Linked DNA regions of Homo sapiens: region 1 is linked to region 2. Evidence: fine-mapped expression QTL. Tissue or cell type: whole blood. Region 2 holds a variant in brackets; the other region holds the start of a gene. All regions are shown on one strand. Distances are from middle to middle.

What was found.
Region 1: SPIDR starts here. The variant in region 2 is fine-mapped to the expression of SPIDR in whole blood (TOPMed, PIP 0.94).

What each region holds. Positions count from the first base shown.
Region 1 is chr8:47,256,585-47,265,114 of GRCh38, forward strand. It overlaps SPIDR (scaffold protein involved in DNA repair), which reads left to right and starts at 4,354. Exons shown (of 20, transcript NM_001080394.4): 1 at 4,354-4,407. The coding sequence starts at 4,375. RefSeq lists a silencer at 4,068-4,617.
Region 2 is chr8:47,883,689-47,891,688 of GRCh38, forward strand. It overlaps PRKDC (protein kinase, DNA-activated, catalytic subunit), which reads right to left. Exons shown (of 86, transcript NM_006904.7): 32 at 6,569-6,792; 33 at 5,326-5,534; 34 at 4,830-4,962; 35 at 3,859-4,017; 36 at 2,256-2,459. Among named protein-coding and RNA genes, the nearest start is that of PRKDC, 72 kb to the right of the region's middle. The variant C/A (reference allele first, on the strand shown) is at 3,463.

The DNA.
Region 1 (8,530 bases), 630 kb before region 2:
CGGATCTCCTAGTCGGATGTTTTGTGGGAGACCACTGTGCAACAGCCTGTTACTCCGTGCAATTGCATCCAGTCCAGTGCTTCTCACAGGTGAGCATGCATCAGAGTCAGTTGAAGGGCTTGTCAAAACAGATTGCCAGGCCTTGTCCACCAGGTTTCTGATTCAATTGGTCTAGTATGGAGTCCAAGAATTTGCATTTCTGACAATTTCTCAGATGCTGCTGATGCTACCAGCCCCTCACCAAACATTTTTAAAATAATTATTTTATTGAAATATAATTCAAATACCATAAAATCACCCTTTAAAGTGTACCATTCAGTGATTTGTTACAATATTCACAGTTGTACAACCATCATCACTCTAGAACAAAGTACACATTTTTCTTAATTTTTCAATCTGTTTTAAAAATAGGTATACAAAACAACATAAAAAAGTAGAGATGGAGAAGTCCTCCTCCCCTCATCCCAATCACTTGGTTCCTCCCCTCCACCAGGTAACCCCTTTTATTTCCTATACATCTATTTCGATGTAGCATTTCTTCAAGCAGATATAAGCAATATATGGTCTTTTCCTGTTTTCTTGCACTAGAGAGGCAGCACACTATGAATCATATTCTGTCAATTGTTTTTTTCATTTAGTAAAGCTGGAGATCATTATGAAGGTATTACCATGGCACATTTAACAGTCTCCTTACTCTCCAAGTAAACAAATATATCAATTTTTTCTAGTCTTTTGCTATTGCAAACTATGCTGCAAAAAATACCCTTACATACATATCATTTCACATGTGTTATCATTTCATATGTGTATCCTCTAAAATTCAGGTGTTGCCAAATAGGCCATGAAGGCTCCTCCATCACTAATAGGATTAAGGCCCTTATAAGAGGCTTCACGCAGCATTCAGCTAGCTTGCTTTCTTGCCCTTCTGCCTTCTGCCATGTGAAGATGCAGCAGGAAGGCCCACACCAGACACCAAATGCCAGCTCCTTGATCTCAGATTTCTCAGAGTGAGAAAGTAAGTATCTGTTCTTTGTAAACTACCCAGTCTCAGATATTCTGTTATAGCAGCACAAAACAGACTAAGACAATATGTGTGCAGGTGTATGTGTAGGATTAGTTTCCAGAAGTAGGACTGCTAGCTTAAAGAGTAAATACACTTATAATTTTGAAGCATATTTGATAGGAGTTGCATAATTTTGTACTTTTGTTAGCAATACATTAGAGGGCCCTTACCCCAATATGTGTTGTCCAGGACTTAGATTTTAGCCAATATGGTAGGTGTGCAGTTTAAATTTGCATTTCTCTTGTCATGAGTGAGACAGTACATTTTTCATATGTATAAAAGCCATTTGTGTTCCTTTCTCTGTGAACTGCCCTTGTCCTTTGCCCATTTTCTACTGGGTTTCCCCCAAGGAATACTCTTGCTTACTCCTCCAAGAGTAATTTATACTTTAGGGGGCTGTTTCTATATAACATCAATATGAACTATTCTTTAATTTTGCCATTTGTCTTTGCCTACTGTGTTTTTTTTGCCATGCATAAATTAGGGTTTTTATGTAGTTGAATCGATCAATCTTTCCTATTACGACTAGGACATTTTGAGTCATAGTTGGAAAGACTTTCTCCCCTTTCCCCCACTCTAAGATTATAAAGGAATCTGGTCATGTTTTATTCTAATACCTTGACATTTTTTCACGTTTAAATCTTGGATTCATTTATAGCCTAGAGCACTGTCATCTACCAGACTAAAAAAGAATATGGATGAGTAGATTCTAAACATTTCTCCCCATATTAGATCTTTCTTTAAATACAATCTTGCCCCATATATAAGACAGATGGAAGAGAGCTGCCCTGAAGGTGCAGCAGAGACCCTCCTGTGAGTCACACCCTCCCCAGACTCCATGGATCTCCATGGAATCCTTAGGATGGCTGTAAGCAGAGTGAAGACCACAGATATCTGCAGAACAGCAACTAGGCCAAAAAGTTTGATGAGAAAAAAGTTAAAAGAAGGACTTTCTGGTTTGTCTTGATGTTTGCCATTGAGTGTTTGCTGAGGAGGAAATGAGGCAAGACTGGAGAGGACTTAAGAGACCCTTTCTGCAGGGGCTCATCTTTATTATCAACAGTTCCCTTTTGCTGAGTTCATATGTTCAAGTGAAAAATTCCTCATGATTCTACTATGATCTGATTGGTGTAGTGGAGAATGCATCGACCTTGGTATCACATATGAGTTCTAATCCTGAACAGTTACTAGCTGTGCAGCCTCTGGCAAGTCATTTCTGTTTCACAATTAGCAGTTCATCCATAGTAAATAACTGAGTACTTTGTATATGGAAGACGCTGTGCTAACTGATAGAGATACAAAAACGGAGAAGATAGAAATGGTATTACCTTACAGCATGGAGGTGGAACCACATGGTAAACAAATAACTTTCGTAATTATTTAGATTCTAATTGTTATAACATCTTCAACAGAGCATGAGGTCCTGCGGACATGGAAGAGCAGGGAGGTTCAGGCTTGCTAGTTTAGGGAAGCTGGCCACCAGGTTCAGGTTTGACAGGCGCATAGGAAATGGCATGGCAGAGGGAGGCCAGAGCCTTTTAGGCAAAAGGAAGAGCAAATGCTTATTAGACCCCAAGGCTGCAGGAGCTAGGCACGTTTGACCACCGAAAGGGAAGGCCAGTATAGACAGCATAAACCTCACTGTGGTGTCTGTGTTGAGAATGGATTGTATGTGTGTGCTGTGTGAGGGGCAAGAGTGGATTAGGGGACATGGGTTAAGAGCTACTAGCAGTCTGGGCAAAAGATACTAGTGGCCTGGGAAACAGTGGTAGTGGAGAGTGGACACATTAGTAAGACACACAAACGTGTTCACAAAAATTCCTAGGTTTCTGCGTGAGCTGTGGCCAGGTGGATGTCCATGCCACTACTGAGATGGCGAATTCTGAACAGGAGGAAGTTTGGAGAAAAACCCCAACATTTCGGCAGGACAGCACCTCCTGGTGGAGATGACAAGCGGGAGCCTCACCACAGGCCTGGTTGTGGGAGTGAAAGGGGGACTCCGGGCGCGGTCGGGTGCACTTACTGTGCTAAGACAGCAAGGCCCGGCGGAGGTGGCAATGGCAGACCTGGTTTCTCGGCGGAGTCCCAGTGGGAGGCCCGGTGTCCAAAATCCTCAACTAGATTGGGCATGCCGTTTATCTTGTTCCAACTGTTGACAGTAATGGCACTAGCAATAATGTCCTTCCCAGGCAAAGATGGTTTTTCTTCCGTGTTTTCAGCCACTGCAGAGTGGACATCTACTATGAACCAAGTATCTGCGGCTTTAGGTACCAGATTCAAACACAGAATGGTGGCAGAACAGGGACTAGGACGGAGAGAAAACCTGAAGATGGATCAACCAGGAAGCAATGCATTCTCACAGAGGCACAAAAAAATGCCTCTGAAACAGAAGATTCACCTCCACTTCTGCGTCCTTTTGAGGCAACTTTCTGAGCATCCTTTCCTCCTCCCCAGGCCAACGCTTTTCCACCTTGTTAAACTACCCGGTAGCTTTCTCCATGGGAGGCGCCTTCTTCACAGTACTCGGACCCAGTTACACTTGTGGCCTTCCCCGGCTTCTGCTGGGCCGGCTATGGTCGACGCCGCACCGTCTCAGGCCCACTTCTCCTGCGGGAGCGGCGGCCCCAGCGGAGCCCCTGTGCGCCACGGCGAACGTGATAGGAATGCAATCTTCCGCCCCTTCAGACTCTGGCACCCCGTAGCCTTTCCTCAGGCTCCACGAGTTCTCCCGGTGATGTGATGACCGACATGGCGTCTGGGCTCTGAACACAGACTTTACTCCTTCCCCCCGGCCCCGAAACATGGGGAAACCACACCCTCTCTGCTCCAGTCACCAGCAGCCACTCCCATTCCTTAAGTATCCATTATTGCATGTGTAGCCTATTGCATGTGTAGCCTACTTCTGGTTTTCATTTTTATTTAAGGTCAGTTGTTGCCTGACAACACAGACGACAGTAACTTAATTCGAAAGACAATACTTGGAGGCGGCCCCCGCTCCAGGCACCAGCCCAGCAGCTCCCCCGAACTCCCCAGGAGCTCGCGGGCGAGCAACGCCACAGCCCAGAGCGAGCTCCGCGGAACCCCCAGCCCCGGGGAAGGAAGCTCGACTCTCCGCGGGGCACTCCTTCCGGGCTCCGGGCCCGACTAGGCCATCCGGGAGGCCCTGGAGCGCCGGGGCCGGAGAAGCCCTGCCCCCCGCCGAAGCCCCGCCCTGCGCCCGAGCGCCCGCCAATGGCAGGGCGCGGTGCGGCGCGCCGAGGTGGGACGGCGGCGCGCTGAGGAGGCGGTGCGCTCAGGCGGCGCTCCCGGAGATGCCCCGCGGCAGCCGCGCTCGGGGCTCTAAGGTAGGCTCTGGGGCGGGAGTGGGCGCCGCGCCGTTTCCCGCGTTGCGGGGAAGCGGCGGGCCGGCGCGGGGCTGGCCCCGTTGTGCTGGGGTGAGAGAGGGTGGGCGTTGGGGGTGAAGGGCTAGGTGGTGGCGGGTCCCGTCTGCGCGCGTGGAGCAAGCCCGCGCAGTGGGGTACCGCCCCCAGGTCCGGCTCCGGTCCAGGCGTGCGGGCCGGGCCCTCAGCGGCGGTACGGAAAGCGAGGGGTGGGACCGCCGAGGGACGCAGCGGGCGGGAGCATATGTCCGCCTCGGGGGTACTTGGCCTTACTCTTGTCTCTTTTTGATTCTGGTGTAATGTACCAAACCGCAGGGAATCCTGGCGTGGTTTTACCCGTCTCCGCGGATAATCCACTGTCAACTCTGTCTCTCTTCCTGCCGCACTCGGAGGGGACTGTGCGGCTGACTGCCCAATCCGTGGGCACCGCGCTGCCTCGGGTTCCAGAACGGGAGCGGGTGCCTAGGAATCGTTGCTTGAATGGTGTTTGATTGCACCTGTATCCGCGAGTGCATCCTTTTTTGTTCTGCTAATTGTGCTTGTCATGGCATGTGTCCTTTATCGTTTTAAAGTTTCTTCTAACTTCCTTGCTTTCAAATACGTTTGTCTCATAGTAAAACGGTTTTTAAAAAGCAAACACAGGACCTCCTTTCTTGACTCTTGCCTTTACTTGAAAACTTCCTGGAAAAAATAGACCACATATACTGGTTCAACTTCTTTACCACTACCATGCTTTCTCGCTTCTCAAATACCATTGATTATCAGCCCACACTATCAGTTTTGTGACTGGCTTTAGGGAATAAAGAAATTCATTTCAGGCACCTCTTGATTATAAGATACAGTCTGATTTCTGAAGCATTAATGTGTGAAAAAAATCAAGGAAATATATAAATTTGCTAAATCCAGTGTAAGTTGTTTACTTGATCATTGGAGCGTTTGACACATTCACCACCTGCTTTTATTTCTTTTGGAACATCCATGATTGTTTTCCTGTCTTGCAACAGCTCATTTTCTTCTCTTTACTGTGTTCGTGCCATGTTCTAATTTTTGACCTTGTGCTTTTTCACATGTTCCATATTTGCTTTGGACAATGTCATACATTGAAGTTAACTATATAGATGACTTTCAGATCTATATTAGATCTTTCCCTAGAGCTCAAACTTAGTGCATCACATAATCATCATCTCACCCTTAGTCCTCCAGGCCCTAACAGTTTCTCTTGACTTAGAAATCTTAGTATTTTTGAATTGACGTTCACTTCTGGTCTCTTCATCTTGTCATTTTTCAAGACTCTTTTTTTTTACTCAATTTTTTTTAGTAGTCGTACAGTTGTCTATTGTGTAATACGTTGCTGAAAACTGAAGCAGTTCATAACAAATGTTTATTATATCATAGAGTTTCTGAGACTCAGGAATCTGAGAACGGCTCAACTAAGTGGTTGTAGTTCAGGATCTCCCACAAGGCTGCAGTCAAATAAAGGGTCGTTGGAGCTGGAGAATCCAGTTCCAAGCTCACTCACGTGGTTGTTTCTTGACAGCTGCATAGGGCAGCTCACAACAGGGTCCTGGCTTTCCCAAGAGCAAGAGAGAGAGCAACAAGATATCGGTCCCCGTGTCTTTTATAGCCTAAACTCAGAAGTGACATCCCATCTCCTGTCTATTCATTACATGGACCAACCCGGTACAATGTATGAGGAGACTATAGAGGGTCCCCAGGAGGTGGGGATCACAGGGGCCACCTTGGAGGCTGGCTTCCACAGTATTTCCCAGGAATTTATTTTTTGTTTCTGTCTCCCTCGGTCAGTCTCAAAAGTACTTAATGGTTGGAGTGTTGATGTGTAGTGCCGGCTAGCATGCTCCCATTCCATCTTCAGAGGTGACTTTCCCTTAGGCACTACTTTGATTATATTGTTAGTCCTCTATCTAAATCTCATTTTACTTCTTATTGGCTACATCATAATTTACTGCAGAACTTATCCTGTGTTTAGTGCTTTATATGTATTAACTAATTTAATTATTTTAACAGTCCTGTGAGGTAGATACCATTAGTCTCATTTTATGGATGAGGAAACTGAGGCTCAGCAGAGAGGCTAAGTAATTTGCCTAAGGTCACACAGCAGTTAAGGGAAGAAGCTAGGATTTGTATCCAGGTAGTCTGCCCCAGACCTTGCTTTTGTTCAGGCTCTCAGCCTGTTATTCACAGCCTCCATAATATCTGTGTCTTATTCCTTTACAGCTTTGCTCATTATTTATCTTATAGGTAAACTAGACTACTGCGTCACTGTACTTGCTTGCCCCTTGGTGGTAATTGCGTATGTTCTTGGTTTGGAATAATGCCAGTTCTCCCATTTCTGCTGATTGAAACCTTTTTTTTTTGAGACGCAGTCTCGCTCTGTCGCCCAGGCTGGAGTGCAGTGGCGCGATCTCGGTACAGGCGCCAGCCTCCACACCGGGCTAATTTTTTTTAAATTTTTATTAGAGACAGGGTTTCACCGTGTTAGCCAGGATGGTCTCGATCTCCTGACGTCGTGATCCGCCCGCCTCGGCCTCCCAAAGTGCTGGGATTACAGGCGTGAGCCACTGCGCCCGGCCATGAAATCTTAATCATCCATTGAGGCCTACTTCAAATCCCACCTTCTCCCAAATTATCCCAGCTATAAATGAACTTTCTTCTGTATGTTCTTGGTTTGGAATAATGCCAGTTCTCCCATTTCTGCTGATTGGAATCTTAGTCATCCATTGAGGCCCACCCCAAATTTCACCTCCCAAATTATCCCAGCTGTAAATGAACTTTCTTCTGTAGTCTGTGGAATTTTATGTAAATAACTCTTACTATTCCATGTCTTACATTAGGTTTATTTGTGTCTACACCTTTATTCCCTTATATTCTAGACATTTAAGATTAGGGACTATTTCTTCAGCCCATATTCCCCAGAATACCTGTCATATCCCTTGTATGTACTAGATATCTGATGAATTAATGAAAGGAGAACTAGTTTAGAAGATTTGCAAGTATTCCAGGTGTGAAGAAACAGGAGGAAATACCCTAGTCCGAAGACTCGGATATCTGCCTCAGCAGTACAGCTGAATGATTTTGCAGTTTTGGACAAGCCACACAGATATATCACGACTCTTAAGATGAAAGGTGGTGTGGTTATGGACTAAGGTGGTGGAATTAGGAATAGAATAGAAAGGACTGGGTTGACAGACTACAAATGGAAGGTGAGATTTAGGCAACTGCAATTGAAAGAGGAAGAGGAGGAAACCCATGGTGATTCAGAAAGTCGAACCTATGAGAAGTGAGAAAGTTGTTTGCCTCTTAACTGATGTTAGGATATATAGATATATCCTATATATCACATATATAGATATGTGGTATTTAAGTCCCAGGGAGATTAGGGCAGTCAGTTGCTCAAAGGCTGGGGTATCTTAGTTCTTTCCTCACTCCCCTCTCCTCCATGAGTTTCTCCTGCCCTAGCCCCTCACTATCCCTTAACATGCTGTGATTCTTCCCTTTGTGCCTTGTGTTCTCCCTTTCCTTATGAAGTAGCCAAGGACGACCACATATACTCCTGTTCTTGGGCAGCAGCTTGCCTTTTGAGATTTTCTTTTTTTTTTTTTGAGATGGAGTCTTGCTCAGCCACCCAGGCTGGAGTGCAGTGGCCCGATCTCGGCTCACTGCAACCACTGTCTCCTGGGTTCAAGTTCTCTGAATAGGGCAATATACCTAACATTGAGTTGTCGTTTCTTTATAAAATGGGGTTAATACCTATATTGCTGGGTTGATGTGAGGATTAAATTATGAGAATGCATGCGATGATATACCGAGCATATAAACACTCAATAAATGTTGGTGATAATGAAAGCAATTAATAATGAAACACCATGATAATTAAAGAAATCATATGAGGACAAAGATATTGTACATCCTCTACTGCTTTGTCTCTAGATTTCCCTGGAATTGCTGTCTTTCAGCTTCTTGAACAAGAAATAGGAAAAAGGCTCATTTTCAAGTTTTTCAGTGATGGCAGGAAATTCTCATAGTTATCTTGGTAGGAGTACCTCATGGTTCCAGTTTAAGGCCTTGA
Region 2 (8,000 bases):
AAGAGCCTTTTTTGTTCTCTGATGTTCATTCTCCATAGCAATTCTTATTTCACAGTTTTGTCTCTCATCTTTCAGTTTTTTTTCTCCAGCTTACATTTCCATCTCACTGAACAGGCCTTGCCACAGTTGCCTGTGTCCCGCTACGCCCTCTGGCGTCCCTTTCCTCAGGTGCCTGAGCCCCTGGGCTGCCGGCTCACAGGTATCACCTGCCTGGAAGCGCTGTGCAGCGTGCAGGGCTCGCTGGTGGGGAGGATCACTGTCACTGACCCAGCTGGCTATGATGCCTGCATCTTTATTTTCTCTTAGGGCTTGTCAGGATATTCTGGTGCCCTGCCAAGGGCAGATGCTGAACTGAAAGTATTCAGAGGGAAAGGGCAGACAGCCTGAAAGTCTAGAATTTAGGTAGGTTAGTACTTAACTTTCCTCTTTTCCTGATGGTATCCACATATTCAGCCATGCCAGAGCCCCCAGTCTGGAGGTCTCTATCCTCTCCAGGGAGTCACTGCCTCCTGCCTTCTCCTCAAGTGGGGAGGATCAGACCCCCAGCAGCAGAGACAGGAGGCTGCCCTGCAGGGGAGAGCTGGCCTTTGCCCAATCCTCTCTTCTCAGCCTCTGCTCACCCCTGCTCGCATGTCTGCCCTGCTGGGGCTCAGCACGTGTGGACCCCAACTTCCGAAGGCTGCATCACCTCGCTGCTATCTCAAACTCTGCATGCAGTCTGCCACACCTGTCCTTTTGATTTACAACTCTTGTCACTCTTGGAAGTCCTTTTCTCTGTGTCCTTTGAGATTGTAGAGGTGTTTTAAAAATCTCATTCTGTTACTTTAGAGGAATTTAGGGAAGGAATAGAGGTCAAAGGCGTATGTTTTTTCTATCATTTCCATCAGAGGTCATAGTTTAAGAAATCAGAATGTTAAATCTGAGTGTCATCTACTACGATTTTATTTCTAATTTTAAAGAATACAAATTCCTACTGCAATCTACCACAAAAGATTCCCCTACAACAGAAAAGCACTGTTTGCAATAAAAGCTCAACTTAGGACATCATGTACTCTCCCTTAAAATGGTCATATCAACAGTTAACAGTTTCTGTCCACAGAACAAGTTAAATTTCAAAATCCCAGAGGTTTAGCAAACGAAAGTCAACTATATATTAAATACTGATCTCCAGGGAGAAAGGGGGACACAGCAGGAACATGCCAGAAATGATAACTCAGCATCGAGGCCACAAGAGAACTCTGAGAACAGAGAGGTCTACCGGGGTGCAGAGACCTGCCTGCAGCTGGTATGAATGCAAAGCCAGCTCTGGGCCCCAGGACGGGTTTGTAAGCTCCAAAGCCACATCTTGGCAAATGTCAATACCCTGCATAGCTGTGCCTTATAATATTTAGGCTTAGAAATTTGCAAAGCATAAGGGAATAGAAAAAACAATCAATGTTTTAACATCCAATAACACTCATTAGCTATTTCTTACTTTTTTAAGACAGAGTCTCGCTTCATTACTCAGGCTGGAGTGCAGTGGGCATGATCTCAGCTCACTGCAACCTCCGCCTCTCAGGTTCAAGAAATTCTCCTGCCTCAGCCTCCTGAGTAGCTGGGATTACAGGCACACACCACCATGCCTGGCTAATTTTTTGTATTTTTAGTAGAAACAAGGTTTTGCCATGTTCGCCAGGCTGGGCTTGAATTCCTGACCTCTGATGATCCGCTCACCTCCACCTCCCAAAGTGCTGGGATTACAGGCATGAGCCACCATGCCTGGCCTAATATTCATTAACTATTGATAAGGGGTATGTTTTGGGTTTTTCTGAGTTTGTTAAAAGCAAGAGCTTTCAACCTTATAGGAAAAAGTCTTGTCATACTTTAATGAAATATTTCAGGAATATGGCAACCCTTTTATAAGGATTATATAAGAAAATATTGACCGGGTGCAGTGGCTCACGCCTGTAATCCCAGCACTTCGGGAGGCCAAACTGGGCGGATCACGAGGTCAGGAGTTCAAGACCAGCCTGGCCAACATAGTGAAACTCCGTCTCTACTAAAAATACAAAAAATTAGCTAGGTGTGGTGGCGGGTGCCTGTAATCCCAGCTACTCGGGAGGCTGAGGCAGGAGAATCGCTTCAATCTGGGATGCAGAGGTTGCAGTCAGCAGAGATCGTGCCACTGCACTCCAGCCTGGGCGAAAGTGCAAGACTCTGTCTCAAACAAACAAACAAACAAAAAAAACAGTTTATTTAAAGGGAAACTTTGTTACCATTTTGGTATTATCCACTGAAGACTGCATGAGCTCCAATACAGCAAGATCCAGATTTTTCAATAATTCCGTGTTGATCGTTTCTGAGAACAAGCTATAGAAATACTCCCCATGGGAGAAGTGGATGACGCTGCCCTGTGAGCTGCCCAAGGACGCCGTGGACAGCACCGCTGGGTTCAGGAGAAGACTCACAAGGCGCTCACACTGGGAAAAAGAAAGGAGAAGTACCATAACTGGGGCACATCTTTGCATGGCACAGAAAGACCCTTGGGCAACTGATAACTTTGAAATTGGAAAATGACACAGGTCTAAAAAGAGCCTGATATGTGAAGCCTGGATTCAAGCTGAAATTGTATATATTTCAACTAGCCTCCATTTTCTAGGTTTCATTTTGGGAAAGAAATCTTCCTTGACCCATATTTCTTCCAAATGTCCAAAAGTCTTGTTGTTGTGTTTTATTTTTTGAGACAGGGTCTCGCTCTGTTGCCCAGGCTGGAGTACAGTGGCACGATCTCGGCTCACTGCAAACCTCCACCTCCTAGGTTCAAGCAATTCTCCGGCCTCAGCACCCCCGAGTATCTGGAATTACAAGTGCGTTCTACCACACCTGGCTAATTTTTGTATTTTTAGTAGAGACAGCATTTCACCATGTAGTTCAGGCTGGTCTCGAACTCCTGACCTCAAGCAATTCACCCGCCTTGGCCTCTCAAAGTGCTAGGATTACAGGCAATAAGTCACCCTGCCCAGCCTTGTTGTTTTTTAAAGACAGGGTGTCACTCTGTTGCCCAGGCTGGAGTGCAGTGGCATGATCATGACTCACTACAGCCTTGACTTCCTGGGCTCAAGCGATCTTCCCACCTCAGCCTCTTGTGTAGCTGGGACTACAAGCATGTGCCACCATACCTGGCTAATTTTTTAAATTTTTTTGTAGAAACAGGGTCTCGCTATGTTGTCCAGGATGGTCTCAAACTCCTGGGCTCAAGCCATCTGCCTACCCCAGTGTTGTTGCTTTGAGGATAGTCTATTAAGGGTGAGTATTTTTAGACAATTTAAATATGTAATTGTTTACATTAATCGGACAAAGGGGTGAAAAAGGGGTTTCTGCTACAGAAGAAAGAAAGTTGGGATGGAGTGAACACAGAGGGCTGGCTGCAGATTTCAGCTACAGCAGGGACTATTTAAGGCCAGCCCTGCATGGTTCAAAGAG[C/A]CATGAGAATATTTTTTTGGAGACTCTGGTTCCTCTGGGATTATCCTTCAGAGGCCCTCCCAATCATCCATGTGAAGGACCACCAAGGAGAGGAGAAGAGGCCACATGTCAACATGACTCAGCTTCATAGTCACAAAACGTTCTCTAGCTAATTCCTTTTGGAAACAAAGTGGGATAGACAAAACCTCTATTTAAAAAGAATGTTGTTCTATTCCGTTCTTTTTTTTTTTAACTATTGAGAAAATAATCTTTTAGAAAGTTGGCTCATGCAAATCATACAATACTTGTCCAGCTAAAACCTTACTACCCAAATTCCACAGTTTCTAGAGACACCTGCAAGTGACATATGTATTTCTATTATTAGGGGAGTGCAGCATGCAGAGGCGTTTTTCCTACCAGTCCTCCAAAAGCAAAGGCTAACTCCAGAAGTCCGCTGGCCAGCTGCTTACAACTGAGGTCTAGAGAAGGCAGACACTGTCTCTCATCTCCAGGGGCAATGCCTTTATAAACCAGGGAAAGAAGTTCTGTGCCAACAGAATGATGCAAATCTGTGGACTAAAAGGAAGCCAACACTGAAATGCCTAGCAAAAAGATATTTCTTAGAAAAAAACAACTTCACTCCTCTCATTAAATAAAAAACCCACTTCAGATAGCACTGACAACTACCTTCCAATATTCAGAAAAATTTTAATTCAACTTTGCTTTTGTTGTTCTTGCTATTGTGAGACAGGGTCTTGCTCTGTCGCCCAGGCTGGAGTGCAGTGACACAATCGTGGCTCACTGCATTCTCAGGCTTCCAAGCTCAAGCAATCCTCCCACCTCAGCCTCCTGAGTAGCTGGGACTACGGGTCCGCGGCACCCACTCCTGGACAATGTTTTTTTTTGTTGTTGTTGTTTTTTAATTGTTTGTAGAGATGAATTCCTGCCATGTTGCCTGGGTCGGTCTCAAACTTCTGGCCTCAAGCAATCCTCCTATCTGAGCCTCCCAAAGTGCTGGGATTACAAGTATGAGCCACTGTATCTGGCTCAACCTTGCTTTCTATGCTAGATTCTTCATTTGTGTTGTCTTGCCACAAAGGCACAACAGCAGTTCCTAAAGTTTTTCAGAAAGCTGCTCTGTAAATACCTAAATGTCCTTTATTTTACTTTCATTTTATATTTATAAATTTTTACATTTGCTTTCATATTTATATTGATATATCATAGATATACAGATACATAATATCTACATGTCTTGAGCAAGTATTTCTATAATTCCCATTTCAGCATGCTCAATACATAAAGGACTTTTAAGAAATAATATAAATAAATACACTAATTATCATACTAAAGCTAAAATAAATGTAAAAACAATAAGTTATAGTTACCTGAGACGGTAATATATTATGCAGAAGCCCAGCTCTGTGAAGCTGTTTACAGGCAGACACAACAGCAGCCAGCCTGCTCCTGTCCACTTGCGCGTCAGGGCCATACAAGTTGACGGCACAAAGCTCCTCAATGCTGGCCATGTGACAAAACAGTAAATTAGGTGAGCTCTGATCTCGTTAAATTATCAAGATACACTGAAAAAAATGTTTGCACTGTTATGAAGCAAACAGAGGCAACATCTAACAGGATCCACACGCACTAAGCTAGCATGGAGATCAAACATGGCGCTAACCATGTCTGAAGTTTGCTTAAGTTTGGTACAGGGAAGGCACTAGTTAAATGTGTTTTCTAAACAACTATTGAGGTCACTGGCAGCAAACATCCCACTGATATAAGCCTTCCCTGAGGAAGCAGGAGCAGCTGCAGGAGCACGGCAACATACTAGGGCCTGAAATTCCAGGACAACATGTCCCCGATTGTGACCCAAGTACCCACCTCTGTGCTGTTATTTTCTCTCTCAGATGGGTCTCTAGGATATCTTTGTATGGGGACATCTTTAGAGCTTTCATCAGATTCACACAAACATCAGGAAGATGAGCCATAACCTGGACGTCTCCGATGTTGAAACCTATGCTTGCGGGCTCACACAGCGTCTGCACCAGGACTCTCATCAGGTGTGTATTACACAAGTCCTTCTTCAGGAGCTGTAACAGATTGTTTGATAAAAACACTTCGTCAGCCAGCACTTCTATTTTCACCAAAGTGCAGGGCCCACAAGGTTGGGAACTTCTGCCTGACTAAGGGAGAGGTGGGCAGAGTTTCTCTGTAAAACGGGGGCACAGTAAACACTTGAGGTTTGTGGGCTAGACAGTCTCTGCTTCAACTCCTTACGCGTCTGATAAGAAAGCAGCACAGACAACAGGTGGACAGAGGCGCACAGCCATGCTCCTATTTAGCTTTATCTACGGAGCAGGCAGCAGGTGAGGTTGTGTCCATGGACAGGGTTTCCCCGCCCCTGACTCAGGACACTGCTGCATCCCAGGGCCTGGCGTGCCACAGGCACCTGGCAGAGATTCCCTGAATGAACTGACTGGAGTTTGTTTATACAATAAGCCTCATGGATACATCTATAAATATTTGCGAGTGTGTGTTTCCTAAGGTAGATGTTTGATCATAGCATAAAATACAGCATCCAATAAAACAATTAGAAAAAACTATTTTATATTTTATTCACACAGTGAAACTCTGAAGGACATGCAAAGTTTCATGATTTTCAATAGATCATTCATCATGATGACTGTAGTTAATAACGATGCATTGTAATTTTGCAAATTGCTAAGAAAATAGATTGAAAAGTTCCCATCAGAAAAAATGTTACATATATGAGGTAACAGATACGTTAATTAGCTTGATTTAGCCATACCACAAGGCAGAGCATATCAAAACATCATGCTGTATACCATAAATACAGTTTTTGTCAACTAAAACAAATTGACAAATTGATTTTGACATATAACTTCTGACAATGCAAAGTTTTAGAAAAGCCAAAACCTAGCCTTCTCTTCCTGGTTCTTCCTGAAGTCAGGAAAAGCTGGGTTGAGAGGATGAAATATAATAATAATAATAATAATAATAATAATGATAAATTTTTATTAAAAGCCAAAACCCCTTCTAACAGAAACCTTTGAAGTAGTTTTCCAGTACCAAAAACTGACCTCAAATTAACAGAGCAGCCTACCTTCCATCCTTCCGGGGAGGTGTTTAGCAGAGTCGTGGTAAACTCCATAATCCGGACCACAACGGTGCATTTGCTGTAGTTGTACCTTTCTCCCTCTTGTGGGCTTGTTCTGTTACCTGCTGCCCCAGTGCCAAAGCACTTTTCTGCTGCTATAATGTCATGCATGGCAATGCTTTCTAAGAAGAAAGCCACTGCTTTCAAAAGTGAAGACTGGGCTTCAGTACCTAGAAGCAATTATATTAAAGTATTAATATATGCTTCCTTTCAACTCCACTAAGATTAACATAAAATTGCTTCTGTAAGTATAGGCATGGTATACGTTCAGCAAAAATTCAAAATTTTTCAAAAGAAACAAACAGCTTAATAATAGCTGAATAAAGTGGCATTTATTTTTTCTCATATCAAAGGACACATTGATGGAAAGTCAGGTCTTTATTCCCAAACATTACATGTGAGAAGATAAATTAATATGCTCATTTTAAAGGGCAATTTGGCAATTCGTACCAAGTTTTTAAAAATATGCATGCCAATTTCTATCAAATGTTTAAAAACTCATTATGCTTTGATCCAGCACTGAAATTTTAACCTAATGAAATGACTGCAGAATTGAAGAGATGTGGTTGTAAGAATCTTCTTTTTAGCACTGTTATCAATAATGAATGTTATTAATAATGAAAAAATAAAAAATCCTGTCCTTCAAAGGACAGAGACAAATTATGGAGCAGTCTTCAAGCAGGTGTGGACAGGCACCAGTCATCTTATGGAATCAACTTTCAGATCAATCCTCAAACGGGCTTTGTCATAAAACTCGTTTGTCTGAAAACACCCTGGAGCTTGTTCTCCTTTCCCATCTCAGGTTGTTCATCAGGACTCTCCTGCTTAATGAAAGACAGACCCACCCTCACCTCTCTCCAGTCTAACTGTAGTTTATTACTCCAAGGTGCACAGCCCTTTAGAGTGCCAAGGGACAATTTAAAATACTTGTACACTGTTGAAAGAGTAAAGGCAACAATTGAGTAGGAAAGCCTTTTTGTAAGTCTCATGGTTTCTAATTCTTTGTTTCCAACATAATTTAAGGAAAGTCAATCCAAACTGTCAACTGACCTCGTTAAAAATAATTTTGATAACATGTATTTTGATGTATTCCAAGAACTGAGATAACTTATATTAAGAATTATTCTCAGCCGGGCGCGGTGGCTCACACCTGTAATCCCAGCACTTTGGGAGGCCGAGGCAGGCGGATCACGAGGTCAGGAGATCGAGACCATCCTGGCTAACACAGTGAAACCCCGTCTCTACTAAAAATACAAAAAATTAGCTGGGCGTGGTGGCGGGCACCTGTAGTCCCAGCTACTAGGGAGGCTGAGGCAGGAGAATGGCATGATCCCGGGAGGATGAGCTTGCAGTGAGCCAAGATCGCGCCACTGCACTC